3 linked regions of the Homo sapiens genome follow. The protein of the gene in region 2 purifies or fractionates together with the protein of the main gene of each other region. This does not show direct contact. Each region holds a gene or a part of one and is shown on either strand. Other genes may lie near its edges.

The links.
Region 1: the proteins of WDR53 (region 2) and RSAD1 purify together in Homo sapiens (affinity purification with mass spectrometry; 3 studies listed by BioGRID and IntAct, with this or other methods). This does not show direct contact.
Region 3: the proteins of WDR53 (region 2) and EEF1A2 purify together in Homo sapiens (affinity purification with mass spectrometry; 3 studies listed by BioGRID and IntAct, with this or other methods). This does not show direct contact.

The regions. Positions count from the first base shown.
Region 1 is NC_000017.11:50,473,533-50,482,137, reverse strand, and holds the start of RSAD1 (radical S-adenosyl methionine domain-containing protein 1, mitochondrial precursor), read right to left. Parts: upstream 3,279-8,605; 5' UTR 3,254-3,278; coding exon 3,119-3,253; intron 2,510-3,118; coding exon 2,376-2,509; intron 2,259-2,375; coding exon 2,054-2,258; intron 48-2,053; coding exon 1-47. Other genes in the region: ACSF2 (medium-chain acyl-CoA ligase ACSF2, mitochondrial), read right to left, coding at 7,586-7,636, 7,871-7,939, 8,134-8,244, 8,332-8,473.
Region 2 is NC_000003.12:196,553,154-196,559,243, reverse strand, and holds the end of WDR53 (WD repeat-containing protein 53), read left to right. Parts: intron 1-4,436; coding exon 4,437-5,033; 3' UTR 5,034-5,067; downstream 5,068-6,090.
Region 3 is NC_000020.11:63,488,806-63,496,654, reverse strand, and holds part of EEF1A2 (elongation factor 1-alpha 2), read left to right. Parts: intron 1-619; coding exon 620-799; intron 800-1,553; coding exon 1,554-1,850; intron 1,851-3,367; coding exon 3,368-3,518; intron 3,519-5,919; coding exon 5,920-6,176; intron 6,177-7,502; coding exon 7,503-7,737; intron 7,738-7,849. UniProt on the Homo sapiens protein: Translation elongation factor that catalyzes the GTP-dependent binding of aminoacyl-tRNA (aa-tRNA) to the A-site of ribosomes during the elongation phase of protein synthesis.

The DNA.
Region 1 (8,605 bases), on a different chromosome or scaffold from region 2:
GCCGAGTGCGTCCGTCCCAACAGCCGGAGCTCAGTGTCATCTAGGGACTGGGAAAAGAGGGTGGGTGTAAGCATACCAGCAGCTCAGAGAGAGACAAGAACCCTCCTCCCCATTGTAGACACAGATACAGGGAGAACGCAGCACGTGGCAGGCAGCTGGAAGGCAGGAGGGGGAAGGTCAAGCTGGCACCAAGAGCTGCCATTCACAGAAGGGTCGCTATGTGCCAAGCACCTTTATGTAGTGTCTAATTTAATCTTTGTAACCCTCCAATATTAGTTCTATTTTACAGATGAGAAAACTGAGGTTCAGAGGTGTTAAGTAACTTGTCCAGGCCATACAGTTGCAAAGTTCGACCTGGAATTTAGGACTGTCTGACTCCAAAATCAAGTCTTTATTTACTTTACTTTTCAATTTTAAATAATTCTAACCTATAGAAAAGTTGAAAGAAAATCACAAAAAAAACCTTCATCTTGATTCACCATTTGTCCATATTTGTTTCTCTTTAAACATACATACCTGTTATTATGCTGAATCATTTAACAGTAAATTATAAACCAGCACTGTCCAAAAGAACTTTCTACAATGGTGGAAATGTTCATATCTGTACTGTCCAATATGATAGGTAGTAGCCACATGTGGTTATTTAAATTTAAGTGAATTAAACTTAACTTACCACATTTCAAATGCTCACTAGTCTGTGGCTAGTGGCCACTATATTGAATAGCAGTTATAGATATTATACTCCCTAACCTCTAAATACTTAGGTGTGTATTTCCTAAAGAACAAGGACATTCTCTTACATAACTGCAATCCAATTACAGAGTTCAGGAAATGCAACACTGACACAACACCATTACATAATACATTGTCATATTCAAATTTGGCTAATGGTCCCAATAACATCTACTGTAGTAATTTCCTCCTTCCTCCCCAGTCAGGGGCCACACATTGTATTCAGCTGTCTCTTCTGTCTCCTTTAGATTCTCAGCCTTTCTTTGTCTCTCATGACACTGGCATTTTTGAAGAATACAGGCCAGTTGTTTAAAATGAATAATTTAATGAATTTAAATAAATTATTATTATTTACGAATTATAATTATTTAAATGAATTATTTAAAATGAATAATTTCTACAGATTGGCTGTATAACACTGTGCTTATAGTTAACAGTGCTGTATGTACATTTAAAAACTTGTTAAGACGGTAGATCTCATGCTGTCTGTTCTTACCACAATAATTTTGTAAAAATCTCTTAATTCAGGGTTTCCTGACAATTAGATTCAAGATATGCGCTTTGGGGTAAGAATATCTTAGAAGTGATGTGTTTCTGTCAGCATATTCCATCAGAACAAAGCCCACAACCCGGAAGTCCTACGGAAATATCGGAGGTCAACCTGAGACGACTAGGTTTCTCCCTACTTAAAAACCTTCAATGGCTCCCTATCATTACTAGGACAAAACCCACACTCCTTAGTAGGCACCAAAGGTTTTGGACTCTACCTTGCAACCTTGTTTCCAGCCTCTCCAATCACAAGGAATGACTCACAACTCCCCCAAAACATGCCAGGCTCTTCCATGGCCTGTGTCGTTTCCCCCACACCCCCTCACCTGGTGAACTCTTCCTCTTCATTCAAACATCTCCTCCAGAGAAGTTTCAGTGATTTCATCAGAGTGACCTCCCTTCAGGCTGTACTCTAGAAGCCTTTTATAGAGACCCCCTTTACAGGTGACATTTACCATGCTGCAATAATCTGGCTACATGTCTGCGTCTCCCGTGTCATGTAGCAAATCTTTTTTGACCACCTACTATGTGCCAGGCACTATGGTAAGTGTTTGAAATAGAAAAGCCACACCTGATCCCTTTCTCATAAAGTCTGTGGTCTATGACAGCAGCAGACAATTAAGGAGTTATAAAAGTGTCGCACTAGGCCCTACTGTGTCCCTGGCACCCAGAAGGTGCTCAATCAATGTTTGCCCAATGAATGAATGTGACCAAAGAGGAGATGGCACTGAAGGGCGGGGTGCACTGGGATGGGGTGAGTGCCATGGGTTACCTGGAGGCCTATAGACAACCTGTTAACCCCTGCTGCCCCGAACTCTGCCAGTCTGGAGCCCGGAGCTGAAGTAGGATTAGCCTCCAATGTGACTTCCAAGTCTGCAGGCAGGTGGGCTGCCTGTGCCACAGCCTCCAGGACAGCAGCCACCGTGTGGGGACTGGCTAGACTGGGGGTCCCCCCACCAAAGAACACAGACTCCACCCTGGGGAAAGAGAATGGAGAAATGAGACCTGGGGGAGCCCTCTGGGATGCCTGCACCTATCCCCCACCACTCCTCCAAATATTTCCCAAAACGCTGCCTACAGCCCCCACTACCCACCGTTGCACCCCGCTGAGCCGCAGCAGCGTCTGAGCTTCGGTCACCAGACACTTCTGCATGGCAGCCTCCTCCAGGCGGCGAGGGATGTACTTGTTGAAGTTGCAGTAACTGCAGCGCTTCTCGCAGTAAGGCCACTGGGGGCAGTGAGTGCACGTGCGCGGTGAGAGCTGCCCTGGCCACTTCCAGGGTTCAGTCGCACACACCCCCAACCCCACCCCCACCCCTATCCCGAGGTCTTTCCACAGTAGCTAGGACATCTAAGCCACACAACTCCCCAAGGCAGGTCGCACTGGGGTTATTACATCCACTTCAATGTGAGAAAACTGAGGCTCACTCCTTTGTTACGCTGCCTCTTCCAACCAGCAGACGTCAGGAAGGAATTCAACCCAAGCTCTTTCTGGGATCATATAATTTTCATACAATTTTCCTATGAGCCATTTTCCCAGCTACCGAGTCAGAACACTGCTCTTAAGAAAATTTTGTCTTGCTAAGAGGAAAATTGTTATGAAATTTGAACCATTTGGTCAGAGTCACCGAGCCGGTGAGTAGCAGAGACTTCAGGTTTCTGGACCAAGTCATTTCCCTGCCAAAGCACAGGGTCCCATCCCAGACCTCGTACGGGGGCACGGAAACACGGCAGGCGGGTTCATAGAGTGACAAACCGCCACCTGGGTTTTGGACGGCCACGGTCACGGCCAGGGCTGCGGCCACACACCGTGGGCTCCGCCCCCGCCCCTACTCACGTGTACGTAAAGCGCCGCGCGCCGGCCCGCAGGCTCAGGACTCGGGGACCCTCCTGCGTTCTCCACGCGGCGGCGCCTCTGGGCCGCTCTGGCTGCTGCCGCCCAGCCGCGAGCCCGGGCTCCGGGGAGCGCCATGGCGCCCAGCGCAGCGCGGCGCACTGACCCGAGCAGGAGACGCGCGCAGGGATCACTGTGAGTGCGCAGCCGGCGGAAGGAAGAGGGGCTGCGTGACCGCGCGACAAGAGGGCCCGGGCCCGGGGCTGCGGCGCCACCTGCCGGGCGCCCGGGCGCTCACTGCGGCCTCCTGTCGGTTCTTTCCCCAGGCCGCGAGGCGGGCTGCTTGCCTTTTGGCACCTTGTGCCCGGGCGAGTTCCCGGACCCATCCAGGAGCTCTTAGTTTGTTCAGTCAATTCCTTGACATTTGATGTGCCTGGCTCAGAACTGGGCGCTGGGGACATCTAGGTGCATAAAGCCAGGTTGCATTCTGGCAGGAGAGAGGCAAGCCAACCGGCCAGGACAGGCAAGGCGTATTAATTCCGTGCCTGCTGGACACCAGAGCCGTCCGCCTCAGTGCTGTGAGGTCATCTGTTTTAAGAGTGTGGGAGTCAGTAGGGCAGAAGAGACACTTGGGCTGGATCTTTCTTTTAATTTCATTTACAAATATTTGGGAGAGGGGAGGTCTTGAACTCCTCGGCCTCAAGCGATCCTCCTGCCTCAGCATCTAGAGTAACTAAGGATTAAGGGCATGAGCCACCACCAGGGCTATGCACGGGATCTTGGAGGAGCAGAAAATCCCAGGGGCAATTGGCTTGGCCGGGAGAGTAGACTGTTTTGGGTCAGGCCAACCCAAGCATCTGGAGGTGTACGTGCTGGAAGGACAGTCAGATGGTGTGTGTAGGAGAGAGGGGGAAGGCGCAGGGGAAGGCCTGGGGAAGCAGGCACCTGAACAACTGTCCCACAAAGCAGAAACATCATGGGCTTCAGAGGCAGGCGGTGCAGGACAGTTCTCCCAGTGGCCTTGAACTGACCTGGTTCTCCCCTCCTTTCTTGCTTGTAGTTCTCAAGAATAACTGTAGACGCCTGTAATCCCAGCACTTTGGGAGGCCGAGGCGGGCAGATCACTTGAGATCAGAAGTTCAAGACCAGCCTAGCCAACATGCTGAAACCCCGTCTTTACCAAAAATACAAAAATTATCCAAGCGTGGTGGTGGGCACCTGTAATCCCAGCTACACGGGAGGCTGAGCAGGGAGAATCCCTCGAACCTGGGAGGCGGAGGTTGCAGTGAGCTGAGACAGTGCCACTGCACTCCAGCCTGGGTGATGGAGCAAGACTGTCTCAATAAATAAATAAATAAAACTGTAGAGTGTGCAGAGAATGCAACATCCTGAGGGAAGGAAGGACTGGCCAGCACAGCCATGCTCTGTTCCAGTCCCCCTAGAAAAAGCATGTCCTTCAACACTTCAGCCCAACATGTCACATGGCCCCAGGGTATAAAGCCCAGGGCAGAAGCCGGGCGCGGTGGCTTACTCCTGTAATCCCAGCACTTTGGGAGGCCGATGCGGGCGGATCATAAGGTCAGGAGATTGAGACCATCCTGGCTAACACGGTGAAACCCCGTTTTTACTAAAAATACAAAAAACTAGCCAGGTGTGGTGGTGCGTGCCAGTAGTCCCAGCTACCCGGGAGGCTGAGGCAGGAGAATTGCTTGAACCTGGGAGGCGGAAGTTGCAGTGAGCCCAGATGGCGACACTGCACTCCAGCCTGGGAGACAGAGTGAGACTCTGTATCAAACAAACAAACAAACAAACGAAAAACAGGGCGGGCTGGTTTCTGGGGTCCCTCAGCTTCAGTACAAGTCTGGCTGGCTGGGCGTGGTGGCCCATGCCTGTTATCACAACACTTTGGGAGGCCGAGGCGGGTGGATCACCTGAGGTCAGAAGTTCAAGACCAGCCTGGCCAACATGGCGAAACTGTTTCTACTAAAAAAAAAAAAAATAGCTGGACGTGGTAGTGCACGCCTGTAATCCCAGCTACCAGGGAGGCTGAGGCAGGAAAATTGCTTGAATCCCAGGGTTCACACCACTGCACTCCAGCCCGGGTGAAAGAGCGAGACTCCATCTCACAACAAACCAACAACAAAAAAAAAAGTCAGGCATGCACAGACAACGGTCCATCCCCCAGCTGCCTCAGCAGCTTTCCTGAGCCGTAGGGGTCCAGCTCCAAATGAATCCCAGCCTTCTGTTGTCCCTTAGTGCCTACCTATAGGTAATAAACACGTTGCATGTCACTTGTGTTTGCCTCGCTGGACTCAGCGTTATGTAACTTGTGGGTGTTTGCCTCACTGGACTCTGACAAGTTGGTAACTAGTGTGCAGTGAACCTGCCTAACAGACAGCTGGGTTCTGATCCAGCTGTGTGACCTTGAGCAAGATACGGAACCTCCCTGAGTTTCTGTTGGGTCATTGGTGAAGTGGGACCAATGGCTACTTGAAAGGATTGTTGGGAAGATTTGGAGAGAAAATAATGTGAAAGTACCTAGCACAGAGCCTGGTACTGAAAATACCTTAAACCTATGTTCATTTCTTAAAAAGTCAAGAGGAGGCTGCTGCTGCCTTGGGCAGGCACGCTGGGAGGTAAGGGGGCAGGCACGCTGCGAGGTAAGGGGGCAGGCGCGCTGCGAGGTAAGGGGGCAGGCGCGCTGGGAGGTAAGGGGGCAGGCGCGCTGCGAGGTAAGGGGGCAGGCGCGCTGGGAGGTAAGGGGGCAGGCGCGCTGCGAGGTAAGGGGGCAGGCGCGCTGCGAGGTAAGGGGGCAGGCGCGCTGGGAGGTAAGGGGGCAGGAGCGCTGCGAGGTAAGGGGGCAGGCGCGCTGCGAGGTAAGGGGGCAGGCGCGCTGGGAGGTAAGGGGGCAGGCGCGCTGGGAGGTAAGGGGGCAGGCGCGCTGGGAGGTAAGGGGGCAGGCAGGAGGCAAGTTTCCATTCCTGTGAACTGGGAATCTATGTGCCTTTTGGAACCCAGCTGTTTTTATTTCTTGGGTCAAGGTACAACCTGCTTTATCTGGCCCTGCCTACGAGGGATGCCCCAGGTTCACCAATCAAAACAAATAAAAACTAAAAATGAGGTTGGTTGGGGAGGAAGGGGGCTGGGAGATGGGAGATAATAGTTAAAGAGTATGGGGTTTCTTTCTTAGGTGATGACAATATTTAAAATTGACTGTGGTGATAGTTACACATATTTGTGAATATACTAAAGACCACTGAATTCTATACTTTAAATGGTAGATTGTCCCAGCACTTTGAGAGACTGAGGCAGGAGGATTGCTTGAGCCCATGAGTTCTAGACCAGCCTAGGCAACATAGCAAGATCCTGTGTCTATGTTTAAAAATTAGTTAAGACATGGTGGCACATTCCTACAGTCCCAGCTACTCAGGAGGCTGAGGTGGGAGGACTGCTTGAGCCCAGGAGTTCGAGGCTGCAGTGAGCTATGATCATGTCGCTACAGTGAGTCACTGCACTCCAGCACGGGTGACGGAATGAGATCCTGTCTCTAGAAAATGGGGGAGGTGGGAGTGAACTGGAGAGTATGTGAATTACATCTCAATCAAGCTGTTATACATATATAAAAAGAATACTTCTTGCTAGACTAATCTGGCAACAATGTGAAAAAGAATTAAATTAGAGTAGCTTAAAAATAAAAAATTGGGGCCAGGCGCAGTGGTTCATGCCTGTAATCCCAGCACTTTGGTAGGCTGAGGCAGGCGGATTGCTTGAGGTCAGGAGTTTGAGGACCAGCCTGGCCAACATGGTAAAACCTCGCCTCTACTAAAAATACAAAAGTTAGTTGGGTGTGGTGGTGGGTATCTGCAATCCCAGTTACTTGGGAGGGTGAGGAAGGAGAATCACTTGAATTAGGGAGGCAGAGGTTGCAGTGAGCTGAGATCGCATGACTACACTCCAGCCTGGGTGACAGGGCAAGACTCTGTCTCAAAAAACAAGAACAACAACAAAAATGGGTTGGTATCTCAAAGGGATACCAAGGGTGAGGGTTAAATTAAGTAGATAATCCACATCAAGGTGCTCTGCACTCTCAATGACAAGGAATAGGACGTCTGAAAGTGCTAGTTCCCCTCAGTGTCTTCCCTTCTCCATCCTGTAGTAGCTGCCAAGAGAGCCCACCAGCAAGAAGCCAAAGAAAACAGAAGCTCTTTATGCCAAATCACAAGGACAGACAGGGGAATGTGGGGGATGGACAGGAGGGAGGGCCTGGGCAGGCTGCCTGCCTTTTGGCACCTTGTGCCCAGGCGAGTTCCCGGACCCATCCAGGAGCTCTTAGTTCGTTCAGTCAATTCCTTGACATTTGATGTGCCTGGCTCAGAACTGGGTGCTGGGGACATCTAGGTGCATAAAGCCAGGTTGCATTCTGACAGGAGAGAGTCAAGCCAACCGGCCAGGACAGGCCTGCTGCTTTATTCACAGATTTAGATGTCGTTCCATCTGCTCTCGAAGTTTGAATTTCTGGATCTAGAGGAAAGAAAATGGAGTTAGGGTTACCAGCTGTCTTGGTTCACCCAAGAATAAGGGGTTTCTCAGGCTCTTAGTGCCAAAACAGGGAAAGTCCCCAGGCAAACCAGGATTAGGTGACCCGGTCACCCTACTGCCAGTCTCTCCACACCCATTGCTGAAGGAAACAGAGGTGGGGCCCTATGGGGCCCCAGAGCCCAGGCTGCCCTCCCCAGCCTCCTCCACCTTACACACCTTTCCTGAAATGGTGAGGGGGTAGTTTGTGACAAACACGATGTACTTCGGAATCTTGAAGTGAGAGATCTGCAGACCAGAGGGAGGGAGGTAAGGCGTGAGGCTGCGCAAGCTCACAGGGGTATGGGTAGGGGACCAGGGGCTGGCCTGGCCAGGAGTCAGCTTCGTCAAGGGCAGAGCAATCCCCACCCTGGGCTGGTTGGCAGAGGAGTGGGTGAGCAAAGAACAGAGCAGCATCAGCTAGGTTGAGCGGAGGCTCCCACCTTCCCTTTGCAGAAAGCTTTTATCTCCTCCACCGTGGTCTCCTCCCCGTCCTTCAGCCGAATGCAGGCACAAATCTCTTCCCCCATCCGATCGTCCTTCACTCCCACCACCTTCCAGGGCCAAAGAAAAATATCAGACATCACCGTGTTCATGTGTGTTTCTTGTTTCTGGGGGCTCACCTGAGCCAAGTGCCTCACCTGCACTTCCTGCACCTTCGGGTGTGTGTGAAAGAAGTCCTCGAGCTCTGCGGGGTAGATGTTCTCACCACCCCGGATGATCATATCCTTAGAGCGGCCCACGATCTTGCAGAAGCCCTGCTCATTCATTGTGGCGACATCTCTGTAAGGAAAGCCCAGGGGCAACCTGTCATCTCTGCCTTGTTCACTCACTTGCTTGCTCAGTCGTGAAACATTTATTGACCAGCTACTATGTGTCTTCCACTGCTCTAGACTCTGGGAGACATAGCAGGAA
Region 2 (6,090 bases):
TGCCCTTGTGGTTGTAAAGAAAGACCTATACAACCAGATGGATATGTTTTAAGTAGGCAGATTGTACAGTGTGTCTTTGAGTAGTCATTCTGTCATCCTTCAGCTGTACCACTTTTCCATCAGTGGTTCATTAACCACTAGGCATGGCAATAGACAATTGGGTACGCAAAAGTGATGTGTACTTTTCAGATTAGATGAGGAATGGGCATTCAGAATTTACTGTCTTGCCCCCAGTTCCAGGTAAGACGTTTTAGTGGCAGGCACTTGCTAGTGAACAGCCCTGGAAACAAGTATTTTGAAAAAGGGAGGCTCAGGTAATTTCTTATTTTGATTTGCCTGGTAAAATTGCTAAAGGTTCATGGTAGATTTGTTTCTACACTGGGTTGTGATGTAACAGCCATACAACCATGCTTTTAAGAAATGACTTCCTTAACTGAAGTTGAAACTCTATAATTATTTCCACAGTTGTCTTCCTAAAACCTGTTGATCCAGTATTATCCTAAACTTTAAGGATAGCCAGTCTATGGGGGAGCCCAAGAATGTAGGCACAGTAATAGTGGAAGGGAGTTCTGACTATTTTGAGTTACTTCTCTCTGAGCAAACAAATTTTATCTCAAGGCAGGAATTGAATGATTGCCATGTTCAGCATACCTATCTTTTTTCTTATGTAACAGTAATTATAAAGTTATGTCTTTTGACTTAGGTTTAAATAATTAGGCAGGGCCAGGTGTGGTAGCTTATGTGCCTGAGGGCTCATGCCTGGGATCCCAGCACTTTGGGAGGCCAAGGCAGGCAGATCACTTGAGCCCAGGAGTTCGAGACCAGCCTGGACAACATGGCAAAACCCTATCTCTACCGAAAATACGAAAATTAGCCAGGTGTGCTAGCATCCACCTGTGGTCCCAGCTACTTAGGAAGTTGACGTGGGAGGATCACCTGAGCCCAGGGAGGTGGAGGTTGTAGTGAGCCATGATCTCGCCACTGCACTCCAGCCTGGATGACAAAGTGAGACCCTGTCTCAAAAAAATAAAATAGGCAAAGCGCATTCAAAGAGGCAGGGACCCTAAAAGCAAAGTGTGGTTCTTTAAGACACGTGAGACTGCTTAATTTTTTATTTAATAGGTACAAAGTAATATTTATATATATGAGGTGTAAAGGATAACATTAGGCCAGGCGCAGTGGCTCATGCCTATAATCCCAGAACTTTGGGAGGCCATGGCAGGTGGATCGCTTGAGCTCAGGAGTTTGTGACCAGCCTGGGCAACATAGCGAAACCCCATCTCTACAAAAGATACAAAAAGTAGCCAGGTGTGTAGTGAGCACCTGTAGTCCCAGCTACTTGGGGGGCTGAGACGGGAGAATTGCTTGATCCCGAGAGGTTGAGGTTGCAGTGAGCCAAGATTGTGCCACTGCACTCCAGCCTGGGTGACAGTGAGACCTTGTCTCAAAAAAAAAAAAAGAAAAGAAAAAAAATTAAATAAATACCTGTATACCTACCATTCAACTATAGTTTTTTTCTTGAAAGACTTAGAAAATTAAAACTGTCATATTTCTGTAGCATACATGTTGATTTTCTTTCCCTGCCCCTTTCTGCATCTGAAAACAAATGATTGAAAGGTTTGTTGTTCTTTCTGGATTTTTAAAACCAAAATCCCAACACTTACAGACCAGGATGGTAGAGAAGGCTCTTTTGTTTGTTTGTTTTTGAGACAGGGTCTTTGTCATCCAGGCTGGAGTGCAGTGGTACAATTAGAGCTCACCGCAGCCTCGCACTCCCTCAGGTGATCCTCCCACCTCATCCTCCTGCATAGCTGGGACTACAGGCACAAGCCGACACACCCAGCTAATTTTTTTTATTTTTGCTGCAGAGGAGGGCTGGCTCCCTGTGTTCCCCAGGCTGGTCTCGAACTCCTGGGCTCAAGCAGTCCTGCCATGGCCTCCCAAAGTGCTGGGATTATAGGCATGAGCCACTGCACCTGGCCTGAAGAGGCTCTTTATCTTGAAGACGAGTCTTTTATGTGGAAAGAAATGTTTTTGTAAAAGGGGAATTTGTTTTGAAAGGTCACTTTGTTATGATTACATTCACTTCTGAACATTTGCTGGTTCCCCACTTTTTCTCCCTTCGATGTTTTGCAGAACCATAAGCCCCAAACTCTTTATTCTTTTCTTTCAGTATCTCTAGCTCTCTTGATTAGGATGAGAACTGCTTGAACAGCTGGTTGAGAAATTAAGTGTGAAACACCTTGGAGTCTTTAGCATTTTAGAAAAGTCAAGAAGCATAAAGGGAATGTCCAGACAGGAACAGTCTGGAATCCTCAATACGTGGAAATGATTCTAGACTTGGTAGAATCTGGGATGGCTGTTAACACATTTAGATGATTTAAGTCAAATACAAAAGGTGTTTCAGCTGCTGAAACACTCTGGGTGCAGTGCATGTTTGAATGTCTTTGGAGGACAGAAAATACAGTCCATTCATAAGGGCTGTATGAGAAAGAACTGGGTCTATCTGCCAATACAGTGAAGCTAGCAGATTCTAGAATGTCCATTTTCTGTGTGTGTGTGTGTGTATTTTCTTTTTTTTTTTTTTAAAGACGGAGTCTTGCTCTGTTGCCCAGGCTGGAGTGCAATGGTGTGATCTCGGCTCACTGCAAGCTCTGCCTCCCAGGTTCACGCCATTCTCCTGCCTCAGCCTCCCGAGTAGCTGGGACTACAGGCGCCCACCACCATGCCTAGCTAATTTTTTGTATTTTTAGTAGAGATGCAGTTTCACTGTGTTAGCCAGGATGGTCTCGATCTCCTGACATCGTGATCCGCCCACCTCAGCCTCCCAAAGTGCTGGGATTAGAGGTGTGAGCCACCGTGCCCAGCCGTGTTCAGATTTTTTAATAGAAACTGTTTTGGGGCATTGTGGCTGATGCGTGTAATCCCATCACTTTGGGAGGTGGAGATGAGTGGATCGCTTGAGCCCAGCAGTTGGAGACCAGCCTGGGCAACATAGCAAAAACCCCATCTCTACAAAAAAATACAAAAATTAGCTGGGTGTGGTAGCATGCGCCTGTAGTCCCATCTACTTGGGAGGCTGAGGTGGAAGGATCACTTGAACCCAAGAGGTCAAGGCTGCAGTGAGCCATGGTCATGCCACTGCACTCTAGCCTGGGTGACAAAGTGAGACCCTATTTTTAAAAAAAAAACTATTTTCATATCAAGTTTCAGCACTCCTTCGTGTTATATTTTCTAATATTTATTTATTTTACTTTAGCTTATTTCAATTTGTTCGTACTTTAACTTCACCCAAACAGTGATTGTTAGTCACATAGTATAATGTTATAAATCCAATTCAAAGAGATTTTCATCTAAGAGAAGCAGAATGTAAGTGTTACTAGATGTCACTGCTTTTGAAAATAGGCCACTGAGAATAATCATAAGGGAAGTTACCTTGAATAGGAAACCAAATTCTTAATAGCATTAGCAATAGTAATCTTGCCAATTCAGATCTATGCTTTTCACTGTCTAAACAAGCTCATGCTTCTTCCAGTGTCTGTTAAAATTGTGAGTTATAATTCAGGGATGATGGTAAACTACATGATAAAGCTGTCTGTTTGCTTTGAAAGTATTAAGAGTATTTTTCTTTGCAAAATGGTTGATACAGGAAAAGAATGAATCACTAGATGATAATGTAAAACCCATTCACAAAGCTTATTTAAAAAAAACAAAAAGCACCAGGTCGGGAACAACGAAAAGCCAAATGAAATTAATACCAGGATGTCATATTAATCAACAGACATGTTTGGAATTTCTCCTCTTTCTCAGCCATTATGCTAGGCATTAGCAAAGACTAAGTAAGTCTCAAGAAACTGATAAGCTAGTAGAATATGTCAATTAATAGAATAGAAACTAGATACAGGAAGGAGAAGCGGGCTGAAATAGGAAAGCCTTCTTGGAGGCACCAGGACTGAGCTTAAGCCCCTTGGATGGGTAATTGGGTAATGTGAAAGGAAAGGAAGGCATTCCAGATGGAAAGCATTTCAATGATAGTCCAGATCGAGTTTATTTAGTTGATAGGCCTTTTGACCTATAACCAGCATAGACTAAAACTAGCAAATTTGATAATCTTTGGTTTTACTTGAAGAGATGAGAGCAGAAAAACCTTTAGAAACTGGCAGCTGCTTAACAATTACACTTTAATGGAGTTTATTAATCAAAAATTATTCAGGATCTTGTTTAATTCTACCTAACCGCACTCTAGTTTTAGTCCCGGGGTAGCATTCCACTGGCATGTTATGGCAGCATTTGATTATTTTTTAATACTGCTGAGAACGTGCACTACTGCTCATTCTCAGACTACTTTAACGATTTTATTAGAAGCTGAATAAGCATGATAGTTGAGCAAATTGGCTAGCATTTTGTATGACTGTGTAATTTCTTCTTATGTAAAGGTGATGCTGTGGAGTCTTCAAAAAGCCCGACCACTCTGGATTACAAATTTACAGGAGGATGAAACAGAAGAAATGGAAGGCCCACAGTCACCTGGTCAGCTCTTAAACCCTGCCCTAGCCCATTCTATCTCTGTGGCTTCGTGTGGTAATATTTTTAGTTGTGGTGCAGAAGATGGTAAGGTTCGAATCTTTCGGGTGATGGGAGTTAAGTGTGAACAGGAACTGGGATTTAAGGGCCACACTTCAGGGGTATCCCAGGTCTGCTTTCTCCCAGAATCCTATTTGCTGCTTACTGGAGGGAATGATGGGAAGATCACGTTGTGGGATGCAAACAGTGAAGTTGAGAAAAAACAGAAGAGTCCCACAAAACGTACCCACAGGAAGAAACCTAAAAGAGGAACTTGCACCAAGCAGGGTGGAAATACTAACGCTTCAGTAACAGATGAGGAAGAACATGGCAACATTTTACCAAAGCTAAATATTGAACATGGAGAAAAAGTGAACTGGCTCTTGGGTACAAAAATAAAGGGACACCAAAATATATTAGTAGCTGATCAAACTAGTTGTATATCTGTATACCCCTTAAATGAATTTTAAATCCAATAAAAACATTTGAAGAATTGTGGCAAAACTGTTTTTCAGATTAAAAAAAAAAGCTCCTGGTTCTTTATTTAAGCTGTTTGTTATATGTAAAATCATACTCTTCTGCTGTACAAATTTTAAGATATTTGAACAAAAGACAATTGGATATTTATATAGTAAGTGATATGTTAAAGTTTGGAGGAAGAGAATGAATATTCATTGTGTACCATGTACCAGCCATTTTACGTATATTTGATTTCTTGTTCCGAATCATTGAAGTGATTTCCCCCATTTTAGTGCCACAGGAATTAAGACTTAGAAATGTTAAGTAACTTAAAGATCCAGGAAAATTGCAGGCACAACGACTTGTCTGGAAAGGACCTTGTTAAGCTGCCTACCGTAGGGAAGCCCACATCCTGGTCCAAATTGGTCACCATATTAGTTATTTCTGTCCAGGCGCAGTGACTCACGCCTGTAATCCCAGCACTTTGGGAGGCCGATGCGGGCAGATCATCTGAGGTCAGGAGTTAGAAACCAGCCTGGCCAACATGGCAAAAACCCATCTCTACTAAAAATACAAAAATTGGCTGGGCCTAGTGGCACGTGCCTGTAATCCAAGCTACTCAGGAGACTGAGACGGGAGAATCGCTTGAACCCAGAAGGTAGAGGTTGCAGTGAGCCAAGATCACACCACTGCACTCTAGCCTAGGTGACAGAGCGACTCTGTCTCTAAATAAATAAATAAATAACATTAGTTATTTCTGATCCCAGGATGTCATGAGGAGCATTACCAAGTTGGAAGAGGAAACCTGTTCTTGCTTGTTCTGTGTAAAGCCCAAATTGCTTTGCTGACAATTACCTTTTGCTGTGTTTCTAAAAAACAAAAAGGGTTCCAGGGTCAAATCAGTTTAGGGTATTATGCAGCAATCCAGGCCATGATGCTGGTGGAGTGAGAATAAGTTGCAGTTATTAATAAGCAGAAATTCTGACGAAGCAGAAGATAGAAAAGAGAATAGAGGCCTAGATAGGGTGTCAAGAGTTATGTTCCTTTTCATTGAGGCCTGGATTGCTG
Region 3 (7,849 bases), on a different chromosome or scaffold from region 2:
GACTGAAGCCCGTCCCCTTCTGTGGGGGTCTCACTGGCCGAGGCCCCCCAGCTTCCCGTGTCCGGCAGAGCGAGGAAGGGGAGGAGAAGCCTCAGAGGGATGGGGAGGCTGGAGCAGCGGGAAGGAGCTGCGTGGCCAGGCCCTCCTCCTGACCTCATTCAGTTTTCCTTTCTCCTTACCTTAAAAAAACACACACACACAGAGGGTTATTTATCTGACAGCCCCAAACACGGTGGTATTATTGGCCTCTGGTTGAGGAAGGGATCTGGGGGCGTCCGCAGCTTCAGATAAAGGGGAGCCCTCGCCCGGGAGGGGTTTATCCCATCTGGCGGCTTCGCTCGTAGAGCGAGCGACTCCCAGGCCCTTGCGCCACCTGCTGGTGGACCTGCGTAGCCGCGCCCATTTCGGAGCAGGTGCGGAGGCCGGCCCTGGGGGGCAGGGTCTGGGTGTGGGGTCCCGACGGAGGGGGCCGGCGTCCCAGGACCCCGACGGAGAGCAAGGGGGTGCTGGAGCCCATCTCCCGCCTCTCGCGGCCACTCTGCTGTAACAAGCAGCTCGCACCACCAGGGACTCCTGGGTCCCGGGTCCCGCCCTCAGCCGTGACCCTCACCCGCTCCAGATGGGGAAGGGATCCTTCAAGTATGCCTGGGTGCTGGACAAGCTGAAGGCGGAGCGTGAGCGCGGCATCACCATCGACATCTCCCTCTGGAAGTTCGAGACCACCAAGTACTACATCACCATCATCGATGCCCCCGGCCACCGCGACTTCATCAAGAACATGATCACGGGTACATCCCAGGTGAGCAGGGCACAGCAGGCGGGGCTGGGGGAGAGGCCGCTGCACCCTTCAAGGGACACTGGGGGCCCCTGGGGTCACTGGGATGGTAGGGTCTCCTGTGCTTCCTGTGAGGGCAGGGGACCCCTCACCTGGGCCACCCTCACCCAGTCTGGCTCAGAGCCCCCCTAAGGATGAATCCAGTGCTCTGGCATCTGAACCAGTGCCTGTGAAGGCATCCAGCCAGTGTCAGAGTCCCCAGATAGATGGGGGCAGATGGGGACGTGGACACACCTTCATACATGGAGGGGTTGGAGGCCAGGATGGGGAGAGTGAGCAGTGGGCAGAGGTGCCACCCGCCAGGTGTAGACTGTATGACATTTCAGGGCACTCACAGAGACGCACGGACACCCCAGACACAGCACCCTGCAGACAGCAGGACACATGCCACCACCTCCAAACTGCTTTGATAACTGTGACTTCTATCCGTCCTCAAGTGAGGAACAGGAGCAGATAGGCTGAGTGACTTGTCCAGGGACACACAGCCCACTGGTGGTGGAGCCAGGGCTGAACCTCGGTCCCCTGACCCAGGGCCTGGCGATGAGCCCCCATGCTGCCCTTGAAGTGGGGACCCCCATGCCTCCCTCCCCAAGGCCCCAGTGGGCTGCTCAGGCCCCAGCCCGCTGCCTGGAGAGGCCTGGAAGTGAGGTGGGGCCAGGCTCGCTCTGTCCCCTGCCAGGCAGGCGGGGCAGGGCTCACTGTGTCCCCTGCCGGGCAGGCGGACTGCGCAGTGCTGATCGTGGCGGCGGGCGTGGGCGAGTTCGAGGCGGGCATCTCCAAGAATGGGCAGACGCGGGAGCATGCCCTGCTGGCCTACACGCTGGGTGTGAAGCAGCTCATCGTGGGCGTGAACAAAATGGACTCCACAGAGCCGGCCTACAGCGAGAAGCGCTACGACGAGATCGTCAAGGAAGTCAGCGCCTACATCAAGAAGATCGGCTACAACCCGGCCACCGTGCCCTTTGTGCCCATCTCCGGCTGGCACGGTGACAACATGCTGGAGCCCTCCCCCAACGTGAGTGGCGGCTAGGGCGGGGCGGGCCACGGGAGCTGGCTGGACCCCCTGGCCCAGAGCGAGGCACCGGCAGGTGGCACGGGGAGGTCGAGGGCCTGTCCCCGGGAAATGCAGGTTCCCCTCGAAACCTGCTGGGTTTCCCTAACTGGCTCAGGGCCCGGCGGGGAGCCCCATGCCCCTCAGCACCGGGCTTTGCTCCTACACTCAGCCTCCCACGCGGCTGGCCGGGGCCAGGGCCCATCTACGATGTCAACACAGCAGGGGCAGCGGCCTCCAGCACCAGGCCCATGTGCTTGGTCTCCAGAGCCCTGCCATGGGGGCGGTCGGTTTCATCTCTGCCAGGCCATTGTCCTGGTCCTGGACACCGTGCAGGGGCTTTGGGCTGGGCCGTGGGGGCCTCCTTGGCTGCCTCCCCTGGGATCTTGGAGCAGGGTTGGGCTTTGGGAAGTGTGCATGCTTCTGGGCTTGCTGGGATGGCCAAGGGTTGGCTCTTGGCCGGTCACCTGGGAGCTCAACGTGCGAACAGTCTGTAGCCCAGGGACTCTGCCTTGGCTGGAGGTGACGCGTGGAGACACTTGCAGAACCTGAGACTGTTCCCAGGGTTCTCCAAGCCAGAGGAGACCCCAGAATGGCCACCACTAGGCTCTGCCAGCACTGTCGCTGCCCACAGTGAGGGTGCAGGTGTGGAGTCTAGAGACAGCAGGGAGACAGACCAGCAGCACTGAGCCTGGAGCTGAGGTCTGGGGACAGAACTGGGAGGGACTCCCCCAGCTCCGCCTCCATCTCACGAGGCTCGGTGTTGTTTACCTGTGATGGCGTTTTCCTCATGGGGTATCATGTGGCGAACGCCACTCTCCCCTCCCCAGGGAGGCCTCCAGCCATCAGGGACCCTGCACTCCCCTCTGGCCTGAGCTGCTAGGTGGCTCGTGCTTACACAGGCCCTGGGGGGCTGGGGCACTGTGCTGCCGGCCCCCTCCCCTGCTCCCTGTTTGTGGCAGGTGGCCCAGAGGGAGGCTTCATGGGATGGGAGTGGGGGCCACACTAGGAGAAGCTCCGGACAAGGCTGGGCCAAGCTCGGAGGCAGCACGGTGTCCAGAAGCTAGGGTGGGGCGAGGCTCCTCCAGCTCTGTCCCTGGCCTGGCCCTTGGCCAGACTCAGCATCCTCCTAGTCAAGTCATCTGCCCTGCCTGGAGCTGATGGTCAGGGGCCCGGGGTTTCGGGGACTTGGGGCTGGACTGGGGATTTGTTCACAGTGTCAGCAACTCCTGAGCAGCCTGGGCTGGGAAGGGTGCTTTCCCTCTTTGTCCTCCTCCTTTTAAGAGGGATCTCCTTCCCAGAGTCCCTGTGATGCTGGGGCTATGGGCTGGGGAGGAGCAGGGTGGGGAAATTCCTCATCTCAAAGGGCACGAGGCAAGTTTAGCCTGAACAGCAGTACTCCTGGAAGCACCCTGGGGAGGCCTGAGGGTGGGGAGGCCACCAATGTCTCTTAACGGATTGATTTTCTCCCTTTGGTCCAGATGCCGTGGTTCAAGGGCTGGAAGGTGGAGCGTAAGGAGGGCAACGCAAGCGGCGTGTCCCTGCTGGAGGCCCTGGACACCATCCTGCCCCCCACGCGCCCCACGGACAAGCCCCTGCGCCTGCCGCTGCAGGACGTGTACAAGATTGGCGGTGAGCAAGGGCGCTGTGCTGGAGCTCCTGCCTGGCCAGCTCTGCCTGCCCTAGACCAGGGGCCCCTACAAGGCATCTCAAGACTGGGCTGTCTCCAATCTCTCCCCTTACCACACACTTTCTGTGGGACAGTCCATCCCACATCCATCCATCCATCCACCCACCTCCCCACCCATCCATCCTCTGTCCATCCATCCACCCATCCATCTATCCACCTCTCCATCCATCTATCTATCCATCCATCCATCCATCGATCCATCCATCTCCCCACCCATCCATCCTTCACTCCATCCATCCATCCATCCATTGTCCCATCCATCCTTCTCTCTATCGAACCATCCCTCCATCTCTCCATCTATCCACCTCCCCACCCATCCATCCTTCTGTCCATCAATCCATCCATCCATCCATCCATCCACCTCTCCATCCATCCATCCATCTCCCCACCCATCCATCCTTCTCTCTATCCATCCATCCATCCATCCATCCATTGATTGTCCCACCCATCCATCCTTCTCTCTATCCCTCCATCCATCCATCCATGCATCCATCCATCCATTGTCCCACCCATCCATCCTTCTCTCTATCCATCCATCCATCCTTCCATCCATCCATCCACCTCCCCACCCATCCATCCTTCTGTCCATCCATCCATCCATCCATCTCTCCATCCATCCATCCATCCATCCATTGTCTCAACCATCCATCCTTCTCTCTATCCATCCATCCATCCATCCATCCATCTACCCACCCATCCATCCTTCTCTCTATCCATCCATCTATTGACCCACCCATCCATCCTTCTATCTATCCATCCATCCATTCATCCACTCACCCACCTACCCACCCATCCATCCTTCTGTACATCCATCCATCCATCCATCCACCCACCTACCTATCCATCCATCCTTCCATCCATCCATTTATCCATCCATCCATCCATCCATCTATCCACCCACCTACCCACCCATACATCCATCCATCCACCTCCCCATCCATCCACTTCCCCATCCATCCATCCATCCATCCATCTCCCCATCCACCCATCCACCTCTCTATCCATCCATCTCCCCACCCAGCCATCCTTCCCTCCATCATCCATCCATCCATCTCATCCATCCGTTCATCTCCTCATCCATCCATCCATCCATCCATCCATCCATCCATCCATCCATCCACCTCCCCATCCGTCCGTCCATCCATCCATCCATCCATCTATCCCCCCATCCATCCATCCATCCATCCATCCATCCATCCATCTATCCATCCACCTCCCCATCCATCCATTCATCCACCCACCTTCCTACCCATCCATCCTTCTGTCCATCCACTCATCTACCTCCTCATCCATCCATCCATCCATCCATCCACCAATCCATCCATCCATCTCCCTACTCATCCATCTCCCCACCCATCCTTCTGTCCATCCACCTCCCCATCCATCTACCACCCCATTCATACATCCATCCATCCATCCACCCACCTCCCCATCCATCCGTCCATCCATCCATCCATCCCACCAAGAAGAGAAACCATAAACAAATCTGAGACCCTAGAGAAGGGCACTGATAGGAGACCCCCAGCCAGTGGGCTGCAGCCAAAGATGTTGCAGGCATCTCTGTGTGCACTGTGGGGGCATCATGCTCACCCCAGCACAGAGCACAGCCACTGGCCTCAGTGAAGTTGGCTGGAGGCTACAACAGGCCTCCCTCACAGCCCTGGGAGGTGAGGGTGGAGACCCAGTAGCCTGGGGGGGGACAAGACCCCCATGTGGCAGCTGCACAATTGGTTTAAGTAGATCCATGAGAAATGCCAGGGACGCTCATGTGCCGCTGTGCCTGTGCTGCATCTGGCTGAGAGGCCCCTTTAGTGATAGAGACCTGCAGCATCCAAGTGGGGCCCAGAGAGCCTGCAGGGAGCAGGGAGCAGGGCCTGCAGGGAGCAGGGAGCAGGGCCACCAGGCCCCAGGCAGAAGCAGTCAGTCGCCCCGCCCACACTCACAGGGAGGAGTCCTCAGACAAAGGAGGGGTCCCATAGTGCCTCCTTTGAGGGAAAGTGCTCTCCGGGGGCAAGGATGGGACCCCAGGTTCAGACAGCCCCTCTCTGCCCATCCTCCCGCTTCTCTGTCCCTGTGGCTTTTCCGTGGGTTCCTGGGAGCTCTGCTGCTCAGCCTCTTATTTCCCCAGCTGGGTGGGAGAGCCCCCACTTCCCTTGGAATCTCTGTGTCTGCCCTTGTCCCTGGCCTCCCTTCCCCTGCACTCCGCCCATGTGGCCCCAACCCCCAGGCCTGTCGGGGGGATCCAGTCCCAGGCTTTGTTGGTTTCCAGGCTCTGTCCCCGAATATCCTGCCCCAGCATCCCCTCGGGCCCCACCTTCCCCTCACACCCCCTCCCCTCTGCAGGCATTGGCACGGTGCCCGTGGGCCGGGTGGAGACCGGCATCCTGCGGCCGGGCATGGTGGTGACCTTTGCGCCAGTGAACATCACCACTGAGGTGAAGTCAGTGGAGATGCACCACGAGGCTCTGAGCGAAGCTCTGCCCGGCGACAACGTCGGCTTCAATGTGAAGAACGTGTCGGTGAAGGACATCCGGCGGGGCAACGTGTGTGGGGACAGCAAGTCTGACCCGCCGCAGGAGGCTGCTCAGTTCACCTCCCAGGTGGGGGGCTGCGCTGGGTCCAGGGGGCTGGCGCCTGCTGGACAGCAGCAGGACTGTCCTGGGTGAGGCTGCTGTCGGCAGGTGGCCTGGCGTGGGGAGAAAACCAGACCCTCAGGCTGGGCGCAGTGGTTCACGCCTGTAATCCCAGCACTTTGAGAGGCCGAGGCGGGCAGATCACGAGGTCAAGAGATCAAGTCCATCCTGGTCAACATGGTGAAACCCCGTCTCTACTAAAAATACAAAAATTAGCCAGGCGTGGTGGCACGTGCCTGTAGTCCCAGCTATCAGGAAGCTGAGGCAGGAGAATCGCTTGAACCTGGGAGGCGGAGGTTGCAGTGAGCCGAGATTGCGCCACTGCACTCCAGCCTGCGTGACAGAGCGAGACTTCGTCTCAAAAGAAAAAAAAAAAAAGAAAAGGGACCCGCATACCACCGAGGGGGCCACCGAGCACTCAACGAGGGGATCAATCAGTTCTGGGAGGGGTGCAGGCCCTGTGGCTCCCAGCCTGTGTGCAATCGCGGGTCTGTCTTCCACGCTGCACTGCTGGGATGCCCAGCCTTTGAGGTCCTACATTCGTCCTAGAAAAACGCTTTTGTTAACTTACTGTCTGAGACATCTCTGTCATACTTTTATTCTCTACAGTCTTCATTGCCCCTCTTTGCTGGCCTCTTCATATGATTTATTTATTTTTTTTTTGAGACGGAGTCTCGCTCTGTTGCCCAGGCTGGAGTGCAGTGGTGCGATCTCGGCTCACTGCAACCTCCGCCTCCCGGGTTCAAGTGATTCTCCTGCCTCAGCCTCCCAAGTAGGTAAGATTACAGGCATGTGCCACCACGCCTGGCTAATTTTTGTATTATTAGTAGATACGGGGTTTCACCATGTTGGCCAGGCCGGTCTCGAACTCCTGACCTCAAGTGATCCACGTGCGTCAGCCTCCCAAAGTACTGGGATGACAGGTGTGAGCCACCGTGCCTGGCCTCTTCATATGATTTTTAAAAGTGGCTTTATTGAGATACAACTGAAACACAGGAATTGAGGTCCAGTTTTGTCACCCCCCCGCCTTAGTTCCAGCTGGGGTTGGCCGTGTAAGTGCTGCCCCTGCCCCTTCGAAACAATGAATCTCAGTTGTTTATCTTTTGCTTAATGAGGATGTTGAGGTTCAGGTCTGGGGGCTGGGTCCTCAGAGCCTGAGCCCCCTCCAGTCAGCACTCCGGGCCCAGGAGCCCGTGCAGGGGCGCCGGTGACTGGGCCTCCCAGCCCCGCTCTGGCGCCCTCCCGGTGCCCACCGCCGATGTGCCTGATGGCCGCCTGTGGCTCCGCTCGCAGGTCATCATCCTGAACCACCCGGGGCAGATTAGCGCCGGCTACTCCCCGGTCATCGACTGCCACACAGCCCACATCGCCTGCAAGTTTGCGGAGCTGAAGGAGAAGATTGACCGGCGCTCTGGCAAGAAGCTGGAGGACAACCCCAAGTCCCTGAAGTCTGGAGACGCGGCCATCGTGGAGATGGTGCCGGGAAAGCCCATGTGTGTGGAGAGCTTCTCCCAGTACCCGCCTCTCGGTGAGCCGGGGTGGTCCGGGGAGGTGCAGCCCCCAGGCTGTGGCTGATCCAGGCTGAGGGCAGAGGACTGCGGGGATGGGGCGCTGGGGACAGCAGTGGGCCCCCTTTCCTG